Linked DNA regions of Homo sapiens: region 1 is linked to region 2. The links come from fine-mapping of genetic effects on gene expression. A gene starts in region 2. The other region holds a variant in brackets. All regions are shown on one strand. Distances are between the middles of the regions.

Region 1 (4,388 bases), 27 kb after region 2:
AAGTTGAATGTAGCTCTGGAGTTGGCACAACAACTGGTTCTAGCTCTGGAGCTGGTGCTAGAACTGGCTCACTCTCTACAGCTTGTGCTGAAGCTGATGGTAGAGCTGACACCGGATCTGGCCCTAGCTCTGGACCTGGTGTCAGAACTGGCACTGGAGCTGGAAGAGGAGAAAGGTTTGCCAGCATGATTGGATTCCATGTGCCTTTTCAAAGACAGAAAGCATCCCACTGCAGGCTGGACATGGTGGCTCACGCCTGTAATCCCAGCACTTTGGGAGGCCAAGGCGGGTGGATCACTTGAGGTTAGCAGTTTGAGACCAGCCTGACCAACATGGTGAAATCCCATCTACTAAAAATACAAAACTAGGCGTGGTGGTGCATGCCTGTAATTGTAGCTACTTGAGAGGCTGAGGCAGGAGAATCACTTGAACCTGGGAGGCAGAAGTTGCAGTGAGCCGAGATTGCACGACTGCACTCTAGCCTGGGCAACAAGAGTGGAACTCCATCTCAAAAAAAAAAAAAAAGCATCCTACTGCTTTAAGAACAGTCCTGGCCCGGTGTGGTGGCTCACGCCTGTACTCCCAGCATTCTGGGAGGCCGAGGCAGGTGGATCACAAGGTCAGGAGATCGAGACCATTCTGACCAACATGGTGAAACCCCGTCTGTACTAAAATCACAAAAATTAGCTAGGCATGGTGGCGTGTGCCTGTAATTCTAGCTACTCAGAAGGCTGAGGCAGGAGAATTGCTTGAACCCAGGAGGCGGAGGTTGCAGTGAGCTGGGATCACGCCACTGCACACCAGCCTGGGCAACAGAGCAAGACTCTGTCTCGGAAAAAAAAAAAAAAAAAAAAAAGCAGTCCCAGCCCAAGAACTCTGCCCCCAGCAAGTCTTCTCAGTCTGCAGCCCACCAAATGAGTGCTCCGAGCTTACTCTCTGCTCCTGTCCAACACCGCTCGTCCCAGGGTGGCCCAGCCCCAGGCCCCTCCCCACACATTCCCGCACACCCACCCCAGTCCTCTTCATCCTCTTACTCTACCCCAGTGGCCTCTAGGTGCTTGAACTGGGCAAGAAGAAGTCAGGCCTAGCACTCCAGGTACCAAGCCAGCATGGTAAGCTGAATGTAGCCACCAACAGCCTCTGGCAGGGAAAGTCTTGAGGCTGACAGAATTCTCCAGGCACTGGTCCAGACAGGAGCCCAGAATGAGGAGATGGCGCTGGGACAGGTGAGTGAGCAGTGGAGTCAGAGGCCTGGCCTTTCCTCCCATGCTACCCTCCTGTGGCACCCCTGCAGGGGTCTAGGCTCCCGTGTCTGCCCTTGCCCACTTCTATACCCCAAACTCCAGCCCCACTCTAGCTGTCCTGGCAGCAGCAGACCTGGTCGTCAAACATGGGGCTAGCAAGGAGCCTCAGGCATAGGGAGCTCTCAATAAATGTCTGACCAGCCGGGCGCAGTGGCTCATGCCTGTAATTCCAGCACTTTGGGAGGCTGAGGCAGGCAAATCACCTGAGGTCGGGAGTTCGGGAGGTGGAGATTGTGGTGAGCCGAGATCTCGCCATTGCACTCCAGCCTGGGCAACAAAAGCAAAACTCCGTCTCAAAAAAAAAAAAAACAAAATGGTCTGACCGGCTCCCCCAAGGCAGGCCTAGAGAGTCTGGGGGAGGCCCTCCCCATCTAGGGACACATGGATCACCCTTGCCCTTCTGCTCAGGAGGTACCCCAGGGCCTCTCCCTGACGCCAGTCCTCCCAGCCCAGGGTGTCTTCTCACACACTGCTCACTCTGTCTGCCCACATTCTTCCTGTAATTTTTTTTTTTTTT[G/TG]ATACAGAGTCTCACTCTATTATTCAGGCTGGAGTGCAGTGGCATGATCTTGGCTCACTGCAACATCCACCTCCCGGGTTCATGCGATTCTCTCACCTCAGCCTCCCAAGTAGCTGGGATTACAGGCAGGCGCCACCACACCCAGCTAATTTTTGTGTTTTTAGTAGAGATGGGGTTTCGCTATGTTGGCCAGGCTGGTCTTGAACTCCTCACCTCAAGTGATCCGCTCACCTCGGCCTCCCAAAGTGCTGGGATTACAGGTGTGAGCCACTGCGCCCAGCCAGTCTGTCCACATTCTTGACATCTGTCCCTACTCGCTAGCCAAACCGCAGCTTCCAGAGAAGAGTGGGCCTGGCCCCCAGCTTTGCCAGGGGTGGTCAGGTGGGTGAGCACTTTCCATTCCTAGCATAGCCACAGAGTACACTCCTCCTACCATCTGTCTCCCCCTTCCAGTGGAAAAGATGGTGCTGTCCCAGGGGACCTGGCACCATGCCACCAAGCTCAACCACAGCCCTCTCTGCACCCCACCAGGCAGATAGAACCACCAGAGGAGTCTGGTTTCCCTTTAGTTACAGACGGGGGTGGCCATCATCACACCCCTCTAATCCTGATGTACCACGGCCAGGGAGCCACATGCAGCCAGTGGCCTCACAGGGCTATGGTTAACTCTGGACACACATCCACTATGCAGTCACGGACTAATATAGGCAGAAGCCCAGAATGCTCTCTGGCTGATAGCTCTGCCTTCTGTTACTCAGCACTCAGTTGGAAGTATGCTAAGTCATCAGCATGCTTCCACTTCACCCAGTCTCCTGGGAGGATCAAAACCAAATCCTACTGTCTATTGCAGCATCTGGCTTTAGCCTAGGTTTTCTGGAATAACTATACCCCCCACCCCCACTGTAAGTTGATTGTGTTTGAAATCTAGACTGCTACTGCTATACCCCTAGCACTTAGAAGAGTAGACAGTCTAGTGTCCATGTTGATAAATCGTTGGTTAGGGTTCTAGCACATGCTGCCTTTATTAAAAACTGTCCCAAACCCATTTACAAAAGCAGTAGCTAGTGCAAGGGTGTGTGGCTTATAGTGGGGGGCAGGCTGGACTTGAAACTAGAGAAAGCCTAATTCTTGCTTATTTCAAAGGTTCATTCCAGGGGTGTGAGTGAGGTATTAGCTACATGTGCTTGGGGACATCAAAGTACCCTGGACCCCTCCAGTCAGAGAAAAGGGGTCTGGGAAGTCTTTCATGCCAGGATATTCAAAATGCATCTGTGGCCGGGCACAGTGGCTCATGCCTGTAATCCCAGCACTTTGGGAGGCTAAGACAGGAGGATTGCTTGAGGCCAAGAGTTCAAGACTAGTCTGGGCAACATATTGAGCTACAAAAAATTTAAATATTTTTCTTTTCCTACAAAAAATTTTAAAATTAGCTGGGTGTGGTGGCACACACCTGTAGTCCCAGCTACTTGGCAGGGCTGAGGTGAGAGGATCACTTGAGCCTGGGAGGTTGAGGCTGCAGTAAGCCTCATCCCACCACTGCACTACAGCCTGAGCAGTACAAGAGACTGTCTCAAAAAAATAGTAACATTTTAAAAAATTTAAAAAGAATAATAAAGTGCACCTGTAAGCACTATACAGTGTGTTTTCCCAACTCTGTCCCCTGAGAAGGCCTAGAAGCAACTGTACCACAATAACAGTAAGCATACCTTGTGCCTAGATTTTGGTACCTAAATACCATTCTCCACTAAAAAGCCAGACAAGAGGAACCAACAGATGTTAAAAGTAGTGGATTAAAGTTTGATGAGGAATAAGATATTTATATAGTCTCAAAGCATCATCCCACAAAATACTTGTTAATAAGTACATGATACTCATTAACTTTACAATGGAAAAACCTGCAGGTACTATCTTTTTTTGTTTTGGTTTTGGTTTTGAGACAGGGTTTCACTCCCATTGCCCAGGTTAGAGTGCAATGACACAATCTTGGCTCACTGCAACCTCCCCCTCCTGGGCTCAAGCGATTCTCCTGCCTCAGCCTCCCGAGAAGCTGGGACTACAGGCACACATCACTGCACCCAGCTAATTTTTGTATTTTTTGTAGAGACAGAGTTTTGCCATGTTGCCCAGGCTGGTCTTGAATTCTCGAGCTCAAGCCATATGCCCCTCCTTGGCCTCCCAAAGTCCTGGGATCACAGGCACATGAGCCACTGCACCTGGCTAGCAGGTACCATCTTAATCGAATGATAAACATTAACATCACCAGGAATGGAACAACATGGTGTGCTTCCTGATATGATGCACTGAGAATGGAGAACCAGTTCCATGGAATTTTCTCCAAAAATGCAGATTCAGGTATGCAACCTGAGTCTTATGAGGAAATATCAAAACCCAAATTGAGGACATTCTATAAAGTAACTGGCCAGAAATCATCAAGAACGTCAAGGTCACAGAAGGCAGTTATGGATTGGAGGAGACTACAGAGACTGGGTCACTCAATTCAGCGTGCAGTCCTGGATCAGATCACAGTTGATAAAGGACGTTTTTGGAATGATCAGGGTTCTGTGGAC
Region 2 (4,388 bases):
GGCACAATCTCAGTTCAATGCAACCTCCGCCTCCTGGGTTCAAGTAATTCTCCTGCCTCAGCCTCCCAAGTAGCTGGGATTACATGCACCCGCCACCACACCTGGCTAATTTTTGTACTTTTAGTAAAGACGGGATTTTGTCATGTTGGCCAGGCTGGTCTTGAACTCCTGACCTCAGGTGATTTGCCTGCTTCGGCCTCCAAAAGCGCTGGGATTACAGGCGTGAGCCACCGTGCCCAGCCTGCTACTTCTTAAAAGTTTACAGTAATAGACAATGCTGAGGCACCCTGGGACAGTAATGCCACCGAATACCAAACTAGGACATTTTTGAGACTGAAAGGGGACAAGATCTGTAAACCTAGATTACCCTAGAGAGGTGACGTTGCTTGCTTTAATACTTTGGTTGCCTTATTAATTTTTCAAAAATTGCATCCTATTTTTTTGGTTTTCAAAATAAGAAAGACATACTTGAATAAAGTTATTTCCTCTTCAAAGTCTTTCTAGATTCCACTTTTCCCCATGCTGAGTTAAATGCCTTTCTCTTTGGTTCTGGGGCAGTGGTTCTCAATGCTAGGGGGTGGGGTAAAGCTGGAATTTTGGTCCTTTCTCCCCTAAGGGACATTTGGCAATGTTTAGAGACATTTTGGGATGCCTAGGTCAGAAGGAATGCCACCGGCATCTAGTGCGTAGAGGCCTGGGATACAGCTAAACATCCTACATTGCATAGGAAAGCCTACACAGCAAAGAATGATCAGGCCCCAAAACTTAATGGCGCCAAAGTTGAGAACCCCTGCTGTATGGTATGTTTGTCATAGCACTTCATAAAGACAGCTGTAGGCCGGGCACGGTGATTCACACCTGTAATCCCAGCATTTTGAGAGGCCAAGGTGGGTGGATCACCTGAGGTCGGGAGTTCGAGACCAGCCTGACCAACATGGAGAAACCACGTCTCTACTAAAAATACAAAATTAGCCGGGTATAGTGGTGCATGCCTGTAATCCCAGCTACTCGGGAGGCTGAGGCAGGAGAATCGCTTGAACCCGGGAGGCACAGGTTGCAGTGAGCCAAGATAGCACCATTGCACTCCAGCCTGAGCCACAAGAGCGAAACTCCGTCTAAAACAAAAACAAAAACAAAAAAAGGCCAGGAGCGGTGGCTCACTCTTGTAATCCCAACACTTTGGAAAGCCAAGGCGGGCAGATCACCTGAGGTTAGGAGTTCAAGACCAGCCTGACCAATATGGAGAAACCCTGTCTCTACTAAAAATACTAAATTAGCTGGGCGTGGTGGCACATGCCTGTAATCCTAGCTACTCGGGAGGCTGAGGCAGGAGGATGGCTTCAATCCGGGAGGCTGAGGTTGCCGTGAGCCGATATCGCGCCATTGCACTCTAGCCGGGGCAACAAAAGCAACACTCCGTATCAAAAAAAAAAAAAAAAAAAAAAAAATCTGTAATTGTCAACTGATTGACCTACCCAGCTAGACTGCAACTTTCATAAAGACAAGTGATACATGCATGTTGTAGAGTGTTTGGCTTGCAGTTGAAACTTAATAAGGATTGGAGGAAAGTGAGAAGACACATCCAGATTCAAATTTAGGGACCTGTGGGATCATGCTGTTTGGGTTTTTTTTGAGCCATTTCCCACCTCCCTTTGGGTACTAATCAGTCAACTGATAAGCATTTCATTCATTCAACTATCTATCTTATCTATCGATCATTATCATCTATTTATTTGTTTTTGAGACAGGGTCTCTCTTTGTCGCCCAGGCTGGAGTGCAGTGGCACAGTCACGGCTCACTGCAGCCTTGACCTTCCGGGCCCAAGTGATTCTCCTGCCTCAGCCTCCAGAGTAGCTCGGACCACAGGCGCTCGCCACCATCCCCGGCTAATGCTTTTGTCTTTTGTAAAGGCGGGGTCTTGCCATGTTGCCCAGGCTGGTCTTGAATTCCTGGGCTCAAGCGATCCTCCCGCCTTGGCCTTCCAAAGTGCTGGGATTACAGGAGTAACCCACCGGGCCCGGCTGGAAGCCTAATTTATACTTTTTTAAAGATCATGCTGGCTTCTCTGGGAGAATATGTAAAACATCTATTATACACAGAATCTAAAATACTTGCCATAAAGTAGTTACACTCTCGGATACCTATTGTCAAAAGGGAAGTCTCCCAGAAAATATGGGGGCGCTGTAGCCGCCGGGTCAGCCGAGTCCACTCTCTGGTACTTTTAGAGACGTCGGTCGCTTCCGGGAGAGTCCGCGTCTCCCGCACCTTCCTCTCTATCAAACGCCGTCTCTGTGGTAGCCGGGGCCCCGCCCCTCCTCGGACTCTACCCAGTACTGAACTAGGGGCAGCTGGGCTCCAGAGTCCCTCGGGTCTCAGGTCATGGCGGTCGCGGGGCCCGCGCCCGGAGCTGGCGCCAGGTAAGCAGGGCGGTCGGGGAGGAGGTTTGGGAGCAGGAGTTCCGGGCTGTAGGGAATGGGCTTTCCTGCCCTCCGTGCCTCGTCCGCCGCCCTGGCGCCCCCGTCTCGCCCCCGTGACTTCTGAGAGAAAGAGGAGCTCTCGAAGGGGCGTCCGCCCTCCCGCCGCTCTAGGCCGCTCCGCACCGGCCGCGGCCCCCTCCGTTCTTGGCCGGACTTGTGCCATCTCCTGCGGTGTGGGACCCTCACCCTCGCAACTGGCATTCTTTTTTTGAAAAGAAGAACCTCAGGTGCACAAAATTGAGTTGATCCTTCTCAGTTCTTGACACCCTGTGGGCCAATGCAAGGCTCCTTGTTTATTTTATCACTTCCTCTCTTCGTTCCTATTCCCAGACCCCTTTCACTCCCCTTTTCAGACAGCCACTCTGGTGTGTTATATAAGTGGCTTTACGGTCCACCTTGGGTAAATTTGTGCAAGTGTTACTTTGAAATCTATATAGCGGTTTCGAATTCTTCAATATAATATGCTGTGATTTTTCTTTAAACCTTTTTCCTCAACATTGTGTTTTTGAGTCCATCCATGCTAGTCATCTTGTTTTCACTTCTGAGTGCTTGCATGAGGGGTGCTGTGTGCATAGACTTATTCCCCTAGTGGTGGATAGATTTTTTTCTAGTATTAACACCCCCACAAGCCACACTGTAACGAATATTCTGGCAGTTGTCTCCTTGTGCATATTGTTGCATTTCTCTGGGTATCCACCCCAGAGTTGGGTCCTGGTCATATCTAATTTTGCTGGATTGTTCTTTGGAATGGTCACACTAGTTTATACTTCCCGACGGGCAGTGCATAAAGCTTCCTGTTTCCCGGTATCCCTCCATCGTTCAGTGGCGGCTGGTTTTGTAATGTTTATCAGTCTGGGGGGTGTAAGGTGGTATCCCATCGTGTACATTTTCTTTCTTTCTTTCTTTCTTTCTTTTGAGACGGAGTTTTGCTCTTGTTGCTCGGGCAGGAATGCAGTGGCATGATCTCGGCTCACTGCAACCTCCGCCTCGGGTTCAAGCGATTCTTCTGCCTCAGCCTCCTGAGTAGCTGGGATTACAGACGCGCGCCACCACACCCAGCTAATTTTTTGTATTTTTAGCAAAGATGGGGGGGTTGGCCAGTCTGGTCTTGAACTCCTGACCTCAGGTGATCCACCCGCCTCGGCCTCCCGAAGTGCAGGGATTACACTTCCCGACGGGCAGTGCATAAAGGAATTACAGACGTGAGCCACTGCTCCCGGCCTACATTTTCATGTGTTTATTAAACGTGGGTTTTCCCTTTTTTGAATTGCCTGTTTATATCCCTTCCCACTTCTCTGTGGATTTCCTATGTTCCTGGCTTGCAGGAATTCTTGTAGGCTCTAGATTTAGATCCTGGCCATGCCCGGTGGCTCACACCTGTCATCCTATCACTTTGGGAGGCTGAGGTAGGTGGACCACTGGAGTCCAGGAGTTCAAGATCAGCCTGGGCAACATGGTGAAACCCCATCTCTACCAAAAATACAAAAATTAGCTGAGCGTGTTGACGCACGCCCGTACTCCCAGCCACTAAAAAGGCTGAGGTGGGACAGTCGCTTGAACCCGGGAGGCAGAGGTTGCCCTGAGCTGAGATCGCACCACTGCATTCCAGCCTGGGCAACAGAGCAAGACCTTGTCTCAAAAAAAAAAAAAAAAAGATTTTAGGCCAGGCGCGGTGGCTCACGCCTGTAATCCCAGCACTTTGGGAGGCCGAGGCAGGTGGATCACCGGAGGTCAGGAGTTCGAGACCAGCCTGACCAATATGATGAAACCCCGTCTCCTACTAAAAATACAAAAATTAGCCGGGCGTGGTGGCATGCACCTGTAATTGCAGCTTGTCAGGAGGCTGACACAGGAGAATCACTTGAACCAGGGAGGCGGAGGTTGCAGTGATCCGAGATTGCGCCGTTGCAT

Alleles and levels. Positions count from the first base shown, and alleles are read on the strand shown. Sizes are in standard deviations (SD) of each study's normalised expression.
With allele G in place of TG in region 1, the expression in monocytes after R848 of the gene that starts at base 2,358 in region 2 is lower (small effect, 0.34 SD a copy in Quach 2016).

What was found. PIP is the estimated chance that this variant, and not a neighbour inherited with it, causes the effect.
Region 1: its variant is the best candidate, but not a certain one, in a credible set for the expression of ABCD4 in monocytes after R848 (Quach 2016, PIP 0.64).

Annotation. Positions count from the first base shown.
Region 1 is chr14:74,273,537-74,277,924 of GRCh38, reverse strand. No RefSeq gene overlaps it. Among named protein-coding and RNA genes, the nearest start is that of ABCD4, 27 kb to the left of the region's middle. The variant G/TG (reference allele first, on the strand shown) is at 1,822.
Region 2 is chr14:74,300,904-74,305,291 of GRCh38, reverse strand. It overlaps ABCD4 (ATP binding cassette subfamily D member 4), which reads left to right and starts at 2,358. Exons shown (of 19, transcript NM_005050.4): 1 at 2,358-2,417. The coding sequence starts at 2,380. It also overlaps a transcript of VRTN not described here. RefSeq lists an enhancer at 1,910-2,269 and a silencer at 2,530-2,609.